5 linked regions of the Homo sapiens genome follow. The protein of the gene in region 3 interacts with the protein of the main gene of each other region in a pairwise test. Each region holds a gene or a part of one and is shown on either strand. Other genes may lie near its edges. The genes, in order: MYL7, CCBE1, TOX4, HIPK3 and EXOSC10.

What was found.
Region 1: the proteins of TOX4 (region 3) and MYL7 interact in binary tests that used the Homo sapiens proteins (3 or more experiments, as listed by UniProt).
Region 2: the proteins of TOX4 (region 3) and CCBE1 interact in a two-hybrid assay, tested with the Homo sapiens proteins (one large-scale study listed by BioGRID and IntAct).
Region 4: the proteins of TOX4 (region 3) and HIPK3 interact in a two-hybrid assay, tested with the Homo sapiens proteins (one large-scale study listed by BioGRID and IntAct).
Region 5: the proteins of TOX4 (region 3) and EXOSC10 interact in a two-hybrid assay, tested with the Homo sapiens proteins (one large-scale study listed by BioGRID).

Annotation. Positions count from the first base shown.
Region 1 is NC_000007.14:44,138,244-44,142,690, reverse strand, and holds MYL7 (myosin regulatory light chain 2, atrial isoform), read left to right. Parts: upstream 1-1,358; 5' UTR 1,359-1,385; coding exon 1,386-1,388; intron 1,389-1,616; coding exon 1,617-1,730; intron 1,731-1,834; coding exon of another isoform or gene 1,835-1,903; coding exon 1,904-1,979; intron 1,980-2,263; coding exon 2,264-2,368; intron 2,369-2,830; coding exon 2,831-2,909; intron 2,910-3,121; coding exon 3,122-3,170; coding exon of another isoform or gene 3,171-3,269; intron 3,270-3,668; coding exon 3,669-3,770; 3' UTR 3,771-3,827; downstream 3,828-4,447.
Region 2 is NC_000018.10:59,687,064-59,691,079, forward strand, and holds part of CCBE1 (collagen and calcium-binding EGF domain-containing protein 1 precursor), read right to left. Parts: intron 1-4,016. UniProt on the Homo sapiens protein: Required for lymphangioblast budding and angiogenic sprouting from venous endothelium during embryogenesis.
Region 3 is NC_000014.9:21,483,361-21,487,376, reverse strand, and holds part of TOX4 (TOX high mobility group box family member 4), read right to left. Parts: intron 1-4,016. UniProt on the Homo sapiens protein: Transcription factor that modulates cell fate reprogramming from the somatic state to the pluripotent and neuronal fate. In liver, controls the expression of hormone-regulated gluconeogenic genes such as G6PC1 and PCK1.
Region 4 is NC_000011.10:33,347,602-33,351,617, reverse strand, and holds part of HIPK3 (homeodomain-interacting protein kinase 3), read right to left. Parts: intron 3,990-4,016; coding exon 3,865-3,989; intron 3,767-3,864; coding exon 3,605-3,766; intron 3,453-3,604; coding exon 3,390-3,452; intron 3,097-3,389; coding exon 2,800-3,096; intron 2,472-2,799; coding exon 2,331-2,471; intron 11-2,330; coding exon 1-10. UniProt on the Homo sapiens protein: Serine/threonine-protein kinase involved in transcription regulation, apoptosis and steroidogenic gene expression. Phosphorylates JUN and RUNX2. Seems to negatively regulate apoptosis by promoting FADD phosphorylation.
Region 5 is NC_000001.11:11,075,606-11,079,621, reverse strand, and holds part of EXOSC10 (exosome complex component 10), read left to right. Parts: intron 1-1,970; coding exon 1,971-2,021; intron 2,022-2,178; coding exon 2,179-2,257; intron 2,258-2,673; coding exon 2,674-2,780; intron 2,781-4,016. UniProt on the Homo sapiens protein: Catalytic component of the RNA exosome complex which has 3'->5' exoribonuclease activity and participates in a multitude of cellular RNA processing and degradation events.

The sequences.
Region 1 (4,447 bases), on a different chromosome or scaffold from region 3:
GAGGCTGAAGCAGGCAGATCACCTAAGATCAGGAGTTCGAGACCGGCTGGCCAACATGATAAAACCCCGTCTTTACTAAAAATAAAATAAAATAAAAAATATATATAAAAATTAGCTGGGTGTGGTGGCACATGCCTATAATCCCAGCTGCTTGGGAGGCTGAGGAACAAGAATGGCTTGAACCCGGGAGGCAGAGGTGGCAGTGAGCTGAGATCGCGCCACTGCACTCCAGCCTGTGCGAGAGTGAGACTCTGTCTCAAAAAAAAAAAAGGGAATTTAAGAAATTTAAAAGAAAACTCTTGTTATATAAAAAGGGTATTGGGTCTGACAGATAAGAGCTCCTGCACTCTACCAGCCAGCTACTGACAGACATAGGTCTGGCTCCAGTGGAGGGGCAGCAGCCAGTGAGCCCAGCCTGGGGTGGCCCACTCCTGCTGCCTCCAGGATGTCCCCTGTTTCCCCAGCCCCTCTGCTGTGCCCTCGGCCCCAGAAGCTGGCGAGACTGCTTCTCTGGAACAGCATCACGCAGGCCTGCCCATCGGCCCACTGTGCACCAGGCCTTCTGGGGATACAGATGTCAACCAGGTGGGGTGCTCAGGAGGGGCACAGAAGCCAGGAATGACAAACACATCAGCCACCAGGCAAATGGGAAATGTGCCCCAGAAGCTCCCTGCTGAGGATGTTAGGGAGAGCATTCTGAAGTAGTGTGGTTGAGATGAGGCTTGAGGAAGGCAAGGCTCCAAACAGCAGGGCAGACTGGGAGCAAGGTAGACTGCATGGGAGGGCAGCTGATGGAGCTCCTTAACCCTCTGGAATTGCCCCAAAGCCAAGCAAAGTGTTCTTCTTGGGGTCACAGCTAGCTCAGGGATGCCTTCTGCCCCTTGGTCAGAGGGGCAAAAGGTCAGAGCCTAGGGTCACCAAAACCTCTGGGAAGCCCCGGGGGTCTCAGGCCACAGACCATCCTCAGAACTACACACTGCCCTCCCATGCCTGGCGGGGGCCCTGGACTGGCCCTCACCAGCTGTCTTCTTGCACTGGCCAGGGTTCTGGCTGGACTGGCAAGGAGGGGTGGTCAGATACAGGAGTAACTGGATCCCTTCATCAGGACCTAGGGTGGTGAGAGCTTTGAGCCTGCTCTGCTCCAGGCAGACATTGTGTCTGGCCCTGCCAGGATGGATAGACAGCAGGATGTTACACGTTGAGGACATGAAGGTCATCAGGAATGTGGCTGGAATCTGTTAGGCCTCCCCCAGCCCAGGCGGGGGCTGCCAAGTTTGGGCCTATCCTCTGTTCCTCTCCTTATTTGGACCTTCAGGTGATAAGGCTGAGACATAAAGGAGGCTGGGCCCTGCCACCACGACAGCAGCCACACCTCTGCAGAGAGAATGGTGAGTGCCTGCTGGGGAAGAAAGGCTAGCGGTCTCCCAGGTGCTGGCCTTTGGGCTGGGGGAGCAGAGTTTTCTGTGCTTGTGTTGGGTTGAGGGTGGTCCCCAGGGAGAGGAAGAGGATCCTGGCCCTGGCTCTCCTGGGAATGCTCTGGGACTGTGCATGATGGGTGGGGTGGGGAGACTCTGAGGAGTTGGGGAGAGGACCCCTCCCTACTCACAGTGTTGCAGGCCAGCAGGAAGGCGGGGACCCGGGGCAAGGTGGCAGCCACCAAGCAGGCCCAACGTGGTTCTTCCAACGTCTTTTCCATGTTTGAACAAGCCCAGATACAGGAGTTCAAAGAAGTGAGTGCCCACTCCCAGTAGCCTCAGATCCCATCCTGGCCCCCCCACCCCACCCCACATACATACCCCCCTTCTACCCTGACCTTGCCTCTCACACCACCCAGGTCTCTCCCCCACCTCCCACCTTCCCTAGAGCTGGGGGCTGCTCCCACCTGAAGGCCCCCATCCCACAGGCCTTCAGCTGTATCGACCAGAATCGTGATGGCATCATCTGCAAGGCAGACCTGAGGGAGACCTACTCCCAGCTGGGTGCGTGCACCCACCTCCCACCCTGCGCACTGGGGTCCCTACTCTGAGCTGCTGGGCGGGTGGGAGTGGCTGGGGGGACAGGACTCTGCTCCCCTGCTTCCCCTCCTCCCCGTCTCCTCACACTGCCCTTCCCCCCTTGTCACGCCTTGCTTCCACTTCACCTTCCCGACCCACAGCTGCCTCTGCCCCTCCAGCCCCTGTGGCCAGGATGGAGGGAGGGCGGCCTGGGCCTTCTGGGGGACACCCAGGGTCCCTGTGTGCACCTCATGCCCCACCCCCACCAGGGAAGGTGAGTGTCCCAGAGGAGGAGCTGGACGCCATGCTGCAAGAGGGCAAGGGCCCCATCAACTTCACCGTCTTCCTCACGCTCTTTGGGGAGAAGCTCAATGGTGAGCCTGGGACAGAGCTGGGCACCCTTGGCCAGGCAGGGAGCCTGCACCCTGCCTGAACCCCACCTGAACCCTGCCTGAACCCCACCTGAACCTTACATGAACCCCACCTGAACCCTAACTGAACCCCACCTGGACCCACCTGGACTCTTCCTGGCCATGACCCATTCCAAGCACATCCTCTGCCCCAGAATCCCATGTGCACTGGTCACCCCAGTGCTGACTTGGAGCCAGGAAATGTGCCTTCAGCCCCCACCCCCAAATTCCAGTCTCCCAGCCAAGCTGCCCGCCTCAGGAGGATGACCATTCCCAGCCCCACTGATCCCCGAGAAACATTTTATGTTAGGGAATACCCCCACCTCTTCTGGGATGTGGGAGGCTCCTCATGCAGCCCAGTTCCTCCTGCGGGGGACCTGGGATGCTGGAGACATGGATGCTCACCTGGCTGCCTCGGCCTTCCAGGGACAGACCCCGAGGAAGCCATCCTGAGTGCCTTCCGCATGTTTGACCCCAGCGGCAAAGGGGTGGTGAACAAGGATGAGTAAGTATGGGCCCAGCCAGATGAGGAGCACCGTGGTGGAAGCAGAGAGCGGGGTGAGGCCCCTAGTGAGGGGGGCTGCCTGTGCTTCGGGGCCTTACACTGCTCTTTGGGGTGCAGCCAACCCTTCCCTGCGCCATGGGAGCCTCCGTACCCACCTTCCCTGTGCAGTCACTCCCCCGCAGTCTCCTGCTCAGACCCTCCTCACCCCCCAGGTTCAAGCAGCTTCTCCTGACCCAGGCAGACAAGTTCTCTCCAGCTGAGGTGAGGCTGCCCAGCCCCTTCAATACTCATCCCCAGCACCTTCTCTGGGCCTTCACCCATGACCCAGAGCCCAGTACCAGTGAGGCAGTTGCTGGAAGGGTGAGCCGAGGGCCCTTCTGGAGGAGGTGCCATCTCTGTTGAGACCTAGAGGGTAAAGATGTGGAGTCAGAAAAGAGGGCAGGGTGCGCCAGGCAGGGAGACTGTGCACAGACCTGGGGGGAAGTGGATAGGGAGAGGTTTCGTACACTCGGGGTGGGCCTGTGCCTGTGGCTGGAGGGGCGTCCTTTGCCTCTTGGCCCACATTTGCACTGACTCCTCACTCTGCCCAGAGTCAGCCAAGAGAAAAACATTAACCCAGAGTCTGGGGTCTAGGGTTGAAAAGCTAAGGCAAAAAGCACAGATGCAGGGGGCAGACAGAAAGGCCACAGGACTCAGGTGAGGTCTCTGCCGGGCTGGGCCAGGAGCCAGGGGACTGCCACTCACCAGTGTCCCCTGCAGGTGGAGCAGATGTTCGCCCTGACACCCATGGACCTGGCGGGGAACATCGACTACAAGTCACTGTGCTACATCATCACCCATGGAGACGAGAAAGAGGAATGAGGGGCAGGGCCAGGCCCACGGGGGGGCACCTCAATAAACTCTGTTGCAAAATTGGAATTGCTGTGGTGTCTTGTCTGTGACAGATGGGTTGGGGACCAGCCAAGGGGGATCCCAGGGTCTCAGTGCGCACATCACCATGATCATGGCCACCATCTACCTCCTGGGAGCTGGCCCCTCGCCAGCTCACCTTGATTCACTCCCATGATGCCAAGTGAAGTGTGAACTATGATCATGCCTAGTTTACAGATGAGGACACTGAGGCCCAGAAAGTGTGAGCATCTTACCAAGGCCAGCCCTCTAGAAGAGGAGATGGTGGGATTTACACCACCTCCACCAAGCCCAGGAATGAGCCACAAAGTGGGCACTGCCCAGCTACTTGGGGCTGTGCAGAGAAGAGGCTGCTTGCTGGGCACTCAGCAAACTCTGCCCAACAGCCCAGCGGGTGGGCAGCAGCCCTGGGACCCCCACACCCAACCACACAGCCTCCCCTGGCCCACTGCTCGCACCCCATCTCAATACACTGGCTTGGGTGCCTCCCTGCATGGGCCCTTTGTGAAAGGCAGAGAGGTACCCATTTGAAACACAACCAGCTTCTCATTGCAAATACAGGCAAGGCACTAAGACATGAGGAACATGGACACCAAAGCAGGGGCCAGGTAACATGCAAATTTCTAGAG
Region 2 (4,016 bases), on a different chromosome or scaffold from region 3:
CAATTTCACACCACAAAAAAATTGAGCCATTTCTTTGTGGGAAAATTCCAAAATGAAGCAAGGACACATTATCAAGAGCAATCCAAATGAAAGCTAAGAGGTCACAGTCACAGAAAAAGCCACAGTGTGGTCTGTGCTGGCTTACAGATGCCCTCCAATCTTCGAGGAAATAGCGCTAGACAAAAGAAGAGGGTTACAAAGCTTACATTTGTCTATCTATGCACCTTTCTAAGTTTAGCCTACTTAAGTTAAAATGGACATGTTAAAGGTCATGAACGTCCACATAACGTTAAATTTTTTCACAACTTCATCTCCGTAGGATCCTATTTCTGAACAGATCTGTGCCTGTGTTTTTTTCTCTACACCACATCATTCCTTTACCTTCCTATTACATCAAATGATGAATTCCAGTTTCCTAACTTTTCCCTTCCTTTGCCAAAATACCATTATCAGACTTTGTTTCTCTCACTTCAGAATATTTCTTTTAGACTGTTCTCTCCTTCTCCACTACTGTTTTCCACAGTCATTGTTAAAGCCATCACTATTTAGGAGTCTCCATGAGCTTTGTGGAACAAAACAGCTGGTGTTAAAAGGAAGTTCAAAAATTCATAAGTTTAGGCTGGGTTCAAGTGGCTCACACCTGTAATCCCAGTACTTTGGGAGGCCGAGATGGGTGGATCACCTGAGGAGCTCAAGACCAGCCTGGCCAACATGGCAAAACCCCATCTCTACTAAAAATACAAAAAAATTAGCTGGGCGTGGTGGCACATGCTTATAGTCCCAGCTACTCTAGAGGCTGAGGCAGGAGAATCCCTTGAACCCCAGAGTTGGAGGTTGCAGTGAGCTGAGATTGCACCACTGCCCTCCAGCTTGGGCAACAGAGATTCCATTTGAAAAAAAAGAAATTCTTAAGTTTAATCACTGATATATTCTGCATAGGGTACCTGTATAGTGTTATAATATATTTTTAGCCATACATGGAAAAATATAAAGTTATAACTGATTCCGAATACCTTCAATGAAAATGGCTTTTTTTCCCTCGATGGGTATTCCTCCAAATATATGCTATCATTTGATCTTTGAATGTAAAAATTTTTCTACTATACTAATTCAAAACTAACATTTCGGCTAGGTGCGGTGGCTCATGCCTATAATCCCAACACTTTAGGAGGCTGAGGAGTTCAAGACCAGCCTGGACAACGTAGCAAGAATCCATCTCTACAAAAAATTAAATTAGTCAGGCATGGTGGTGGGCTCATGTAGTCCCAGCTACTCAGGAGGATGAAGCAGGAGGATAGCTTCAGCCTGGGAGATTGAGGCTGCAGTGAGATATGATTGCACCACTGTACTGCAGTCTAGGCAACAGAGTGAGACCATGTCTCAAAAAACAAAAACAAAAAACAAACCCTAACATGTTGAAATGTATGGAGAGGTGGCTTTCAGCCTACAAAGCGTGTGATAATTGATATGCAAATCAATGAGGTAAGGTAGCAAACCAAGGTAACACTCAAGGGTTATTCTATTGGCACAGGAAGGCTTGTCATGGAAAGCCATAGAAAGGCAGCAGGAAGTGAGTGCTCAATCAACTCCTTGCAATAAAGTCAGCTTCTTAGAAACTGGCAGATTATGCTCATTTCGAGTATCACTTAGGAATGATGACTTGAAAGAAGTTCCAGCTCAACAAAAACTATGATTCCTGGAGATCAGAAAACCAAGTGACAACTAAAGATGCTTGGCCAAGAAATCCAAACACTGTAATATAAATAAGGTGATACACAGGTAAGTGACCCAAAGATGAAGATGAGTAAGTGACCGTCCCAAGGTCACCTTGAGAATTCAGACATGTGGATGAGGTGTTATAGATGGAAAGCCCCAATCCTGGTGTTTGTATTAAAGTGGATCTACAGGAGTCAAGTTTTCTTTTGTAAGGGGCTAGGCAGTAAATATCTGGGACTTTGGGGGCCAAATTGGGATTCTGTGTGTTCTTTTGCAATGCTTTCAAGACAAAAACTACTCAAACTATTAGTAGTACAAGAACAAGCCATGGGCCCTAGTTTGCCAATCCCTGCTCTCTACCAAACTCCCAGGATTAGACGCTACCTGTTGAGAGCCCCCCTGTATCTCCCACCAGTTCTGTTTACATAGCCTCCTGTGGGACAGCCCACGGGGCTGACATCCGTCCCTGTCATTCCCAGAGGGCCAAGGATGAGAAGCTTCACTCCAGATGAGGCAAATAGAATGTCCCACAGGAGTGGCCAAGAAGGAAAGGTCTAGAACGGATGTGGTCCCAGTTTCTGAAGTCCTCAAGGTCATGGTAAGATGAACTAGTTCTACCACAACCAATAAGGTGGCAACATATTCATCCAAGCTTTCACATTGGCTCTTGGCACACATGGATCATACCTTAAAGCTAGAAAGATGCGACATTTTGCTTAATGAGGATTAAGTGTGTAGGCATCACTACCACCCCATTCTCTACAGGTGTTTCAAGCTGGAAACTAACTGTTCAAGAAGTGTCACATACTTATATGATGACAGATCTATAATGCATTATGTGGAGAGTCAAGCAATGTTGGAGGGGCATGCCTTCTTTAAAACTCTGCTTACAGTCACTGTCGGAAAACATGATGCTGGCCTAGGTGAACTGGGCTTGGGGTATTTGTCCCTAGTGGGGCAACTCTGATGCTGCTATCCACATCACAGGTCACATGAGAAAATAACACCTCCTCTTTGTAATGCTTTCACATTGCAATAATTCTTGGAAGAAACTTGCGGTACATGCTAAGTTCTTGCTAGCGCCTCTGCAGAAAACCTTCTGTTACCACCATCCCTGGGTTTTCCTGACTCTGCTTGAAGCTGTGGGATTTCTGTTGCTGAAAGGACACAGCTGGGCTACCGGCAATTAAGATCTTAACCTCCAAAGTGTGACATTAATCAAATGTATGTCCAAAACAAGTATCTTAAAAAGGTCCCAAAGGAAATCTTTGGGTCAAAATTCCTTTACTGAAAGATAAAGGGAATTAAAATTCCTTGAGGACAGAGGATTTTTGTTGTTGTTGGGGGTTTGTCCAATTTTCAGATATATTCTAAATGTCTAGAACAGTGCCTGGCAGATTGTAAGTACCCAACAAGTATTCGTTGACTAAGTAAATGAAGCTTGTTCATAAGATTAAAATTAGTCAATAGCTAATTAAAACACTATTTAAAATGAGTCAATAGCTTCGCAGAAAAAAAGGACCTCACTTGGCAGAAGAGGAACTGCAGATGTTATAGCTGTTTACTTTTTCATCCCGCAAATAAAAGCAATAATCTAAAACAGAATGTGATCTTTGTTCTCTAGATACTCAACAATGCCTTAAATGCCAGCAGACCCTCTAAACTCACAAAAGGAGCTCCGGTCCTGCTGAGCAGGAGAACAGCAGGGTTTGGGAAAGCTGCTGATTGAAATGCAAGCCTTCTCCTGAGAAGATAGAATATCTAGAATCAAGAAAGAGGCATTTGGCTTTTCCGGGTGCACCCACCCCAGCTTCACTTACAAAGGATGAAGTTAACCATAGGAAGTTGGGCAGCAACCAGAGTAGCAACTGGATCTGATCTCAAAGGACACACCAGTGAAAGAGCAGCCTTTTGTGGTTACTGAGTTAAAATTGTTTCCAATTACTCCGTATTGTTTCTCTGAGAGTGAGTGAGAAGTGATACAGAACCTTCCCTCCCTCGAACACCTGTTCTTGTGGGAAGGCGGGGGACCCCCTTTAAAACCTTGATCCTCTACTCCAAAGCCAGTGTCTGTGGCACAATTAAACACACAGGCAGGAACCCACATGTCCTCTTCAGGTGTTATTTAAGATGGCAAGTTCAAGGAGTTAGCTATAGCTGCCAGAATCTAGCACCTGTTACACATTAGCAATTAAAGTTAAGCGGATCTAACTTGGAACCAATGAAAATAATGGCAGCTTCTCAGAGGTCCAGTTAATCTCTGGTTTTTAGAAGAGTCTTCCTAGCTCAGATTTTAAATA
Region 3 (4,016 bases):
GGGGTACTAGAGATTCTCAGGATGCATTTTTTCTGCTTAGGATCCTATTTTATAATCAATTTCTTAGAACCTATTATTTTTACCAATCTCTCTTCTGATACCCTTGGTCATTTGGTACATTCAAGGCTGCTAACATCAGTCACAATTTTCAATTCTTTTATCTCTTTTCTACCATTACCGTCTCTTTTGTCTTAAATTATGCCTATGGTTCTAATGAAAAATTCTTTCAGTACCATTACTTAGGACATAGCCTTTATAACCTGTTTACTATGATTCTTGAAATCTCTCTCTAAAGATTCTAATAGAGCAGTTATTTCACAATTATTACATCTAAACTGTTAGGTCACAGAAATTCGCTGTCAGCCAGCCAATTATACTTTGTTGTTTTAGGTTCCTTTCAAACAGATGCTAAAATGTACTGTCATGGGAACTTTACCCCCTCTAAAATATTTGCAGAGTTTCCTACTTCTTCTCCACTTTAGAAATTATAATGTTAACAACAAATAAAGATTCCCATTAGTATAGGATTTTCAGAAAACCTCAACAATGCCAAAAATGCTAGTCTTGCTCTGACCAAGCTTCTCTCTAAGAGAGGAAAAGGATTACTCCAGTTGGCTAAAGACCCAATCTCTTCCTCTGAGTCCAACTAGGTCAATAATAACACATTCTTTCTTTTCTGAATGAGGCCACCACTCATGCAGCTAACAGACAATGTCTGATTAAGATGTGAACTGCTATGGTTCTGTTTTGACACTAAAATCTAAATGGTGGCATTTACAGCAATAGACATTTATAAATAATAGCAAGAGACTGCTGTCAGAGAGACCTGGGTACAAGACCTTGAACAAGTTTTCTTCATCTGTAAAATGGGAATTATAATGGTAATCCCCTTATATGGTTATTATGAGGATAAGTGAGATTTCATGCATAAAATCTTAGCACATTGCCTGATACATATAATGGCTTAATCACCATCATTAACCATTGTTATGAATGATAATATCCTAATAATGATTACCCCCACCCCAACCAATTATAACAGATAATTGGAATTTTAGAAACTTTAAATTCTATCAATCTAACACATAGCATAGTAAATATAAACTGATTCAGATCAAATTCAATAGGTACCAACATTTTTTTTTTTCATAATTGAACAATGCATTCTTTAAATAGAGTTCCTAAAGGTTCCTTTTCTTTTTTTTTGAGATGGGGTCTTGCCCTGTCACCCAAGCTGATCTGGAACTCCTGGGCTCAAGCAAGCCTCCAGCCCCAGCCTCCCGAGTAGCTGGGACTACAGGTATGTGCCACCACACCCAGCTAATTTTTAAAATTTTTTGTGGAGACGAGCTCTCCCTGTGTTGCCCAGGCTAGTCTCGAACTCCTGGACTCAAGTAATCCTACTGCCTCGGCCTCCAAAGTGTTGGGCTTACAGACCTCAAGGTTCCTCTAGATCCTGAAATGTTCTTCTATTATGACCATTTCTGTCTTTTTTTTTTTTTCTTTTTTTTGAGACAGAGTCTCGCTCCGTGGCCCAGGCTGGAGTGCAGTGGCGCGATCTTGGCTCACTACAACCTCCACCTCCCGGGTTCAAGCAGTTCTCCTGCCTCAGCCTCCAGAGTAGCTAGGACTACAGGTGTGTGCCACCACGCCCAGCTAATTTTTGTGTTTTTTAATAGAGACGGGGTTTCACCATGTTGGCCTCGATCTCTTGACCTCGTGATCCACCCGCCTCAGCCTCCCAAAGTGCTGGGATTACAGGCATGGGCCACCGCACCTGGCAGTTTTTTTTTTTTTTGAGATAGAGTCTCCTTTGTCACCCATGATAAAATGCAGTGGCGTGATATTGCTCACTGCAACCTCCGCCTCCTGGGTTCAAGTGATTCTCCCACCTCAGGTTCCCAAGTAACTACAGGTGCACACCACCATGCCAGGCTAATTTTTATTATTATTTTATTTTTGAGACAGAGTTTCACTCTTGTTGCCCAGGCTGGAGTGCAATGGCGTGATCTCAGCTCACCGCAACCTCCGCCTCCCAGGTTCAAGTGATTCTCCTGCCTCAGCCTCCCTAGTAGCTGGGATTACAGACATGTGCCACCATGCCCGGCTAATTTTGTATTTTTAGTAGAGACGGGGTTTCTCCATGTTGGTCAGGCTGGTCTTGAACTCCCGACCTCAGGTGATCCGCCCTCCTTGGCCTCCCAAAGTGCTGAGATCACAGGCGTGAGCCACCACGCCTGGCCATGACGCCAGGCTAATTTTTGCATTTTTTGTAGAGATTGGGTCTGGCCATATTGCCCAGACTGGTCTTGAACCCCTGGGCTCAAGCCATCACCCTGCCTTGACCTCCCAAACTGTTGGGATTACAGGCATGAGCCACAGCGCCCAGCCTCTAATTCTGGTTTAATGAAGACATTAGGCTGGGAGCAGTGGCTCACGCCTGTAATCCCAGCACTTCGGGAGGCCCAGGTGGGCGGATCACACGAGGCCAGGAGTTCGAGACCAGCCTGGCCAACACAGTGAAACCCGTCTCTACCAAAAGAACAAAAAATTAGTCAGGCATGGTGGCACACACCTATAATCCTAGCTACTCGAGAGGCTGAGGCACGAGGATCACTTGAACTCAGGAGTCAGAGGTCACAGTGAGTCAAGACTGCACCACTGCAATCCTGCCTGGGCGACAGACCAAGACCATGTCTAAAAAAAAAGAAAAAGAAAGAAAATAAAGGCCGGGTGCCGTGGCTCATGCCTATAATCTCAGCACTTTGGGAGGCCGAGGTGGGTGGACCACCTGAGGTCAAGAGTTCGAGACCAGCCTGGCCAACATGGCGAAAATCCATCTCTACTAAAAATACAAAAATTAGCCAGGTGTGGTGGCAGGTGCCTGTAATGCCATCTACATCAGGAGGCTGAGGCAGGAGAATCACTTGAATCCAGGAGGCAGAGGCTGCAGTGAGCCGAGATTGTGCCACTGCACTCCAGCCCGGGTGACAGAGCAAGACTCTGTCTCAAAAAAAAAAAAAAAAAAAAAAAAAAAAAAAAAAAAAGACATTGCTAGAAAGAAAATTTCCAGCTAGCAGAAACTAGGGAGAAAAAAGTGTGCCTGTGAAATGCCCAATCTCTGAATCACATTTGTAAAAGTTTCCTAAAAGACAAAAAGATATATGTACAGTTTCCCTTCTCCTTACTATTTTACTTGGTATGGTAAAAAATCTGGTCGTTGTCTGAGATATAAGTAGCACACGGAGCATAAGAACACACAGTTCTCAGCTGGTAGTGGTGGCTCACACCTGTAATCCCAGTACTTTGGGAAGCCAAGGTGGGTGGATCACTTGAAAAGTCGGGAGTTCGGGACCAGCCTGGCCAACATGGAAAACCCCATCTCTACTAAAAATACAAAAATTAGCTGGGTGTGGTGGTGTGCGTCTGTAATCCCAGCTACCCAGGTGGCTGAGGCACGAGAATCGCTTGAACCCAGGAGTTGAAGGCTGCAGTGAGCCAAGATCACATCACTGCACTCCAGCCTGGATGACAGAGCAAGACTCTGTCTCACACGCGCACACACACACACACAAATAACAAAAAATACCACGCAGTTCTTGATGGGAAAAACTGAAACTTTCCCCAAGAACTGAACTTTTCTCAGTAGTACACAAATCATGTATTTATGTATGTTGTTTTGTTGTTGTTTTTTTTAATTCTGAGACAGGGTCTTACCCTGTCGCCCAGGCTGAGTGCATGGCTCCATCACCACTCACTGCAGCCTTGAACTCTTGGGCTCAAGTGATCTTCCCACCTTGGCCTCCCAAAGTTCTAGGATTACAAGTGTGAGCCACTGTGTCTGGCCCATAATTTTTGTTATTGTGTGGAAGTTCTTAACTTCCAGTCCATGACTCTTTCTGATATTTCAGTTTAGGTTTACGTGAGCATTTTTAAGGTAGAAGGTACAAAGATTTTTACCAAATTCTCACACCAAAAAAAAAAAAAAAGTTATAGGAACAGGAAGAAGGATCAAG
Region 4 (4,016 bases), on a different chromosome or scaffold from region 3:
ATCTGACATACTACAAAAAGAAAGCATTTTTTATGAGTGATATTTTTTTCCAACATTAAATCTAATGTTAAGTAATATTCAGGCTCCAGTGAACTGATGAGAACATTATTCAGTTATTTTATATATAATTACACCTTTTTCCTTGTCCAATAGCACTTTTTCATAAAATTTCTAGACCCTTAAATTAATTCTCTGTTCCAACTGCCAAACCTAATTCTGTTCCATTTCAGGAACATCATTTTGGCATTTTTTTTTTCTTCTTTCCCTTCCCATTTGATCCTTAGTAGCAGCTCATAAAATTCCTCTTTATAAATTCCAGATAATTTCATCAAGACATGACAAAAGAGGCACTGCTCTGGATAATTTAAATGAAATATACAAACATATATGTATGTGACTTGGCTATTTCAAATTAAATTCTAACATCAGGATATGTGCCTCTGCTGGTAATTTGGGTCCTTGTACCTAACCAGGTATCTGAAAGGTATCCCCACACCTCTGAAGGCCTAGACAGAGCCCCATATTTCTCATCTCTTCCTGACACTCTTGGGCCCTGACAATCTCTCTCTCCTTGGGATTTCTACAGCATTTATTGTCTGTTTCAACCACTCATTCCATACTTACTTACGAATTTGAAGCATCTCTTTTTATACATATTTTTATTTATATATCTTATACGTATATTTGTTTATATATATTTTACATGTGAATGTATAGTTATGTACATTATCAATTTTCAAACCATATTATAAGCAACTTTTAAGAAGATACATTAAAATTTCCTTATATTTTCCATAGAGCTTTGGCTATAAGAATGCAATATCATATTTCCTAAGGAAAAAGATGTGTAAAATTAAAACTTAAAATTTTTCAAATGTTTGTTGCCACTAAAATAAGACTTTATTTCTTTCTTTCCTTCCCCTCCTTCCTTCCTTCCTTTCTAAGAGATAGGGTCTTACTCTGTTGCCCAGGCTATAGTGCAGTGGTGTGATCATAGCTCACTGCAGCCTCAAATTACAGGGCTCAAATAATCCTCCTGCCTCAGCCTCCTGAGTAGCTAGCACTACAGGCATGCAACACCACATCCTGCTTTTTTTTTTTTTTTTAATTTTTGGTAGAGGCGGGGTCTCACTATGTTGTCCAGGCTGGTCTCGAACTCTTGGCCTCAAGTGATCCTCCTGCCTTGGCCTCCCAAAGTGCTGGGATTACAAGTGTTGGCCACTGTGCCTAGACTGTGGCTTATCTCTCAATGCGTTAGTAAATCATTCTGCTTAGGACAAGCTTACTATCTTAGCAGTGGTACATGTCGCTGGCCAAAGGATGGGTAAGCCAGGTTAATATGGATAAAACCATGCAAATCAGTCACCAATGGGAGAAAAAAATCATAGTGGATGTCCTGTAGACAGTGGGCCAGTGAGTACTTCATTATGCAAAACATTCCTTTTTAATTTTGCTAAAGTATATGTTTTTATTCCAAATTTAAGTTACAATAGTAGTCTGTGGGGCTGAAATTAAGAATGTGGCTTTTTTATCCTTTCAAAAATAGATTATTTGGCTGGATGTGGTGGCTCACGCCTGTAATCCTAGCATTTTGGGAGGCTGAGGCAGGCAGATCACCTGAGGTAAGGAGTTCAAGACCAGCATGTCCTGGTGAAACCCCATCTCTACTAAAAATACAAAAAATTAGCCAGGTGTGGTGGCAGGTTCCTGTAGTCCCAGCTACATGGGAGGCTGAGGCAGGAGACTCACTTGAACCTGGGGAGGCGGAGGCTGCGGTGAGCCAAGATCACACCATTGCACTCCAGCCTAGGTGACAGAGCCACACTTCATCTCCTCCCACCCGCCCCTCAGCAAAAAAAGATTATTTAGTTAGGTATGGTGGCTCATGCCTGTAATCCCAGCACTTTGGGAGGCCAAGGTGGGAGCACTGGTTGAGCCCAGGAGTTCAAGACCAGCCTGTGCAACAGGGCAAGATCCCATCTCTACAAAAAAAACTTAAAAATTAGCCGAGCATCGCTGTGCGCACCTGTGGTCCCAGCTACTCAAGAGGCTAAGGCAAGAGGATTGCTTGAGCCTGGGAGGCAGAGGTTGCTGTGAGCCGAGATCATGCCACTGCATTCCAGCCTGGGCAACAAAGCAAGACCCTGTCTCAAAAACAAACAAACAAACAAACAAACCTGTGTTTATAAAAACTGATCTAGTTCAAAAATTGTGTTCAAGATAGAAGTCACTGTGGTAAACTGGCAGGTACTTATTAAACAACAGAAAGAAATCGTAGGCTTTTTAGTAGACTTACTATTTATTACACACTACTATTGAGATTCTTTTACCTATTCGGTCTCTTGCAGGGGGATGGGCTGGACTGCCCTGAGGAGCTGGTACTCAGAGTACTATCAGGACTACTTAATGAACACATCCGATCAATATTCAAAGTGCTCTGGCAAGCTTCACAATCTAGACTACCTTTACATCTAGTGGAAGAGAAAAGGGAAAAACATGAGTCAAATACAAGAAGATACTCTCCAAATAGCCAAAATTTATATTCTTTAATTAAGGATATGAAACTGTTAAGAATGACCTACATGGACAAAAAGTTAAAGCTTACAGATACAAGGAAAATGCTATAATAATCGTGCTAAATGTTATTTAGAAAGTTCCCTGTCTAGAACTGGGTTATCTAATTTAAAGGTTTTACTCCAGAGTACATTGACAAACAAGAAATAAGTCACAGAAAGTTGTTTTTCGGCACACCAAAGGATGCCATCTATATCCTTTGAGGATGCAGCGTTTGGCACTTACTCTCTGAGTGAATGTCTCTGGGAAGTCTCTTCCTCATCAGTGTCACTGCTGATAGTGATGACACTCACTGCAGGACTCGGGGAGTCGGCAATAATGATGGTTTGCCGCTGTTTGTCTGAAACTGATGAATCAGAGTCCTGTCTGATAGATGTTTCACAGCAATTTCTTGCCTCTCCTTCTGAGTTCTGATTGTCCTGTGTTTCTATACAACTTACTTCCTCGACATCTTTCCCATTAATTATCTTTGGAGAAATAAATGCTGAATGTGGGATATTGGTATTCTGTAATGAATTACTCCTGCAACCAAAGGAATAATTTATAATTTCTATAATCAAAATATGTATAATCAATTGTCTAAGGTATCTTGTTAAACCAGAAAATGAGAACCTTCACTTGTTCGAGTTCATGAATATAACACACTAACAGATCTTGAGTTTTTGTGAAATATAAAATAGCTCTAGAAATATCCATGTAGACTGCATTTACATACATTTAAATAGTTGCTTTTTGGTAAATGTGCTATCTGAATGTCCACAATTGCTACATTACAGGTAGATAATAAATCAAAAGGGCAATAAAGACAATCTTACCAACTGAAAGCATTTATTTCCTCTCTTCCTGGCTCCCATTCCATTAGTTTTACCAAAATACCTCTGAGAAATTGAGAAGGGAGCTGGCTTAGTGTTTGTAACAAAGCTATAAAAGAGGTCATTTTGAATACAACAGAGTGACCCTTTAGAGTACATGCAAAATTCATTTAAAAGATTCTCAAAATGCAGAGGAAAGCTAAAGCACCAATACCAACCTGTTCTGGCACTGTTTATTTTTCTTGGTAGTGGCAGGCTGAGGCCAGACAACATGTGCAATCCCCACACTAACTGGCTGAGGGGCAGATAAAGTTATCTGATTGGTCAGAAGAGGCTGCGGCATCACTGAGTTATAATGATTGCTGCATGAAATCATCTTCCTAGGGAGAAGTTCAGAACAATGTTTTTAATCAAGATCTTTCTTTAATCAAGATCTAGTCTGCAAACTATTCACAAAGTACTTTTGTTTTCAGCTTACCCCCAGTCTCCAAGCCTGTGTGAACCAGCCACACTCTCAGAAGTTAGTGTAGTAGTAGCAGGAGCCAGGGGTGTCACCTGTTGCCAGGCAGGCACCAGCATCTGCTGTGTTCTACCAGACCACGTCTGCTTGCAGCAAAGCAAAACAATAGA
Region 5 (4,016 bases), on a different chromosome or scaffold from region 3:
AGGAGTTCGAGACCAGCCTGGCCAACATGGTGAAACCCCGTCTCTACTAAAAATACAAAAAATTAGCCAGGCGTGTGGTGCACGCCTGTAATCCCAGCTACTCCGGAGGCTGAGGCAGGAGAATTGCTTGAATCCGGGAGGCGGAGGTTGCAGTGAGCCGAGATCGCGCCACTGCACTCTAGCCTGGGAGGCAGAGCGAGACTCCGTCTCAAAAAAAAAAAAAAAGATTTTCTACTGAAGGGTCCCAACTTAGCAAGCCTGTTTTTTTTTTGTTTGTTTGTTTTTTGTTTTTTTTAGACGGAGTCTCGCTCTGTCTCCAGGCTGGAGTGCAGTGGCATGATCTCGGCTCACTGCAACCTCCGCCTCCTGGATTCAAGCAGTTCTCCTGACTCAACCTCCTGAGTCGCTGGGATTACAGGCATGCACCACCACGCCTGGCTAATTTTGTATTTTTAGTAGAGGCGGGGTTTCACCATGTTGGCCAGGCTGGTCTCGAACTCCTGACCTCAGGTGATCCACCACCTGGGCCTCCCAAAGTGCTGGGATTACAGGCGTGAGCCATCATGCCCAACTTTAGCAGGCCTGTTTTTTCTGCTAGTGTCTTATTCCTTGTGGCTTCCTAGATTCATGAGCTGGTCTGCATTCTAAACAACCCTAGGGAAATAATAGGGCTTAGGAAATCCAGTGTGTGTGTCTTGATGAATTTAGCTGCTTTTTTTTATGATAGTTGAGAGCTAAGACTCTTTATTTATGACCTTAGCTTTGATGATTCAGCAGCAAGTACTGTCTGGTAACTGGGCCAATTCACTGTTCTAAGGCAGTTAATGTGGTGGAGTGAGATGGAGCGGTGACCTCAGCAGAGGGAGCTAGTTTTGGGAGCCTGGCGATGGCCCAGATGTGAAGTGATAGCTCCCTGAATGAGTGAGGAATCACACACTGAGAAGGAAAGAACAGGTGTAGGAAGCATCAGAAGAAAAGATTGATGAGACTTCGTAGCAAATGCTGACAATGGCAGCCAGTTTTCTTTTGTTTTTTTTGTTGTTGTTGTTGTTTTGAAACAGGGTCAGCCGGGCGCGGTGGCTCACGCCTGTAATCCCAGCACTTTGGGAGGCCGAGGCGGGCGGATCACGAGGTCAGGAGATCGAGACCATCCCGGCTAAAACGGTGAAACCCCGTCTCTACTAAAAATACAAAAAATTAGCCAGGCGTAGTGGCGGGCGCCTGTAGTCCCAGCTACTTGGGAGGCTGAGGCAGGAGAATGGCGTGAACCCGGGAGGCGGAGCTTGCAGTGAGCCGAGATCCCGCCACTGCACTCCAGTCTGGGCGACAGAGCGAGACTCCGTCTCAAAAAAAAAAAGAAACAGGGTCTTGCTCTGACACCCAGGCTGGAGTGCAGTGGTGCAATCATGGCTCACTGTAGCCTCGCATCTGCTAGGCTCCCACCTTAGCCTCCTGAGCAGCTGGGACCACAGGCATACACCACCATACCCAGCTATGTTTTTTTTAATTTTTTGTAGAGATGGGTCTTGCTGTGTTTCCCAGACTGGTCTTGAACCCGTGGGCTCAAGCAGTCCTCCCACCTCAGCCTCCCAAAGTACTGGAATTACAGTTGTGAGCCACCTGCCAGCCCCACATTTGCAATTTTTGTGTTAAAAATGTCTTTGTAAGCTCTGTACTTTGTCCAAGTAAAGAGAGACCTTGATTACTAGAGAAGAGTCTTTTTCAAGCTCTTTGGAATCCTTCCTATTGTGCTTAGTCATGTTAAAGAGCTTTATTCTTTCATTCTACAAATAATTATTGAGCACCAAATAATTATCATGCCAGGCACTGTAAGGAGTGAAGAGAGGAAAGAAAATCTCTGGGCTTTTGAGAAACAGGCTGGTGAAGGAATACAGTCAGCGCTGGAGACTGGGGGTTGGACTTGAGGTGCTTGGGCAACTTTCCTCAATTCCCTTCGTTTTTTTCCTTAGTCTGAAGTTGCAGCCGGAGTGAAGAAGAGCGGACCGCTGCCCAGTGCTGAGGTAGAGTGTCGGATCTGTTTTCTCCCCCAGGAGGGAAAACGTCAAGTCACAGCCAGTGCAAGTACACCTCTGACAGAGGCCTGTGCTGACAGCTGGCAGAAAGCTACTGCCGGCTTGCACGTTTTACATGCCAGCCTGCTGGTGTCTTTTAATGCAGAGATTGGAGAATGTTCTCTTTGGACCTCACGACTGCTCCCATGCCCCTCCGGATGGCTATCCAATCATCCCAACCAGTGGTAAAGTCGAGAGCCCTCCTGACTGTCCCGAAGAGGTTGGGACACAGCTACCTTGTCTAAAATTCTGTAGGCTTGGCCGGGCGTGGTGGCTTATGCCTGTAATGCCAGCATATTGGAAGGCTGAGGCGGGTAGATCACCTGAGGTCAGGAGTTTGAGACCAGCCTGGCCAACATGGTGAAACCCCATCTCTACTAAAAATACAAAAATTAGCTGGCATGGTGGTGGGCACCTGTAATCTTAGCTACTTAGGAGGCAGAGGCAGGAGAATCACTTGAACCGAGGAGGCGGAGGTTGCAGTGAGCCGAGATTGTGCCATTGTACTCCAGCCTAGGGGACTACACTAAAACTCCATCTCAAAAAGAAAAAATAAACAAAATTCTGTAGGCTTTGACCTTACTATCTTCTGCTCCTCTAGGATCTGTGCCAGTTCAGAAGCAGGCGAGCCTCTTCCCTGATGAAAAAGAAGATAACTTGCTGGGTACCACATGCCTGATTGCCACAGCTGTCATCACGTTATTTAATGTGAGTAGCACAGAAACTTCACTGAGGTGATGAGGACCCCCTGGGATTTACTGGATTTATTCAGCAGGCTGTCTGCCTGGAGCATTGCATACACTCGGAGACTAATGCTGAGAGCAAAACCCAGCAGTGCTGGGAGAGGCATAGAGACCAATGAGCAAGGTGGCACTGACCACTCTGGAGGAGGTGGTCTGGGGACGTGGATGGGGGATTCTCTTGAGCTCTGTGTGAAGAAATCTTCCAGGAAAGGCTGACGTCCTGTTGTTGAACAGCACCTAGTGGGAGGAGGGCCTGCGCTAAGAGAACATACAAGCAGGGCTTTCCAGACAAGCTGCAGTGGTGGTGGAGGAAAAACGGTTCACCTGGATGCCCAGCAGGGGTGGCATGGGTGTACTGTCCGATGAACTGTAGAATGTGCGCTGCCCATAGCTTCCTGCCTGACCCCAGCACCACATATGTGTGCTTTCAGTGAAGAAGAGAAATGATTTTTTTTTTTTTTGAGACAATCTTGTTCTGCCACCAAGGCTGGAATGCAGTGGCACAATCATGGCTCACTGCAGCCTTGACTTCTGAGGCTCAAACGATCCTCCTGCCTCAGCCTCCTGAGTAGCTGGGATTACAGGCATGAGTCACTGTGCCCAGCTATTTCACTTTTTTTGTTTGTTTGGTTTGGTTTTTTGAGATGGAGTTTCGCTCTTGTTGCACAGGCTGGAGTGCAGTGGCATCATCTCGGCTCACTGCAACCTCCACCTCCCAGGTTCAAGCGATTCTCCTGCCTCAGCTTCCCTAGTAGCTGGGATTGCAGGCGCCCGCCACCATACTTAGCTAATATTTTATATTTTTAATAGAGATGGGGCCACTATGTTGGCCAGGCTGGTCTCGAATGCCTGACCTCAGGCGATCCACCCACCTAAGCCTCCCAAAGTGCTGGGATTACAGGCATGAGCCACCACACCCGGCATTTTTTTTTTTTTTTTTTTTTTTTTTTTTTGTGACAGGATCTCATCCTGTCACCCAGGTGGGAGTGCAGTGGCACCATCCTGGCTCACTGCAACCTCTGCCTCCTGGGCTCAAGCAATCCCTCTGCCCCAGCCTTCTCTCGAGTAGCTGGGACTACAGGTGTATGCCACCATGCCCAGCCAATTTTTGTATGTTTTGTAGAGGTGGGGTTTCACCATGTCGCCCAGGCTTCACTTTGGTTTTTAACTTAATTACATAAATCTAGATTGGGCCTTGCTT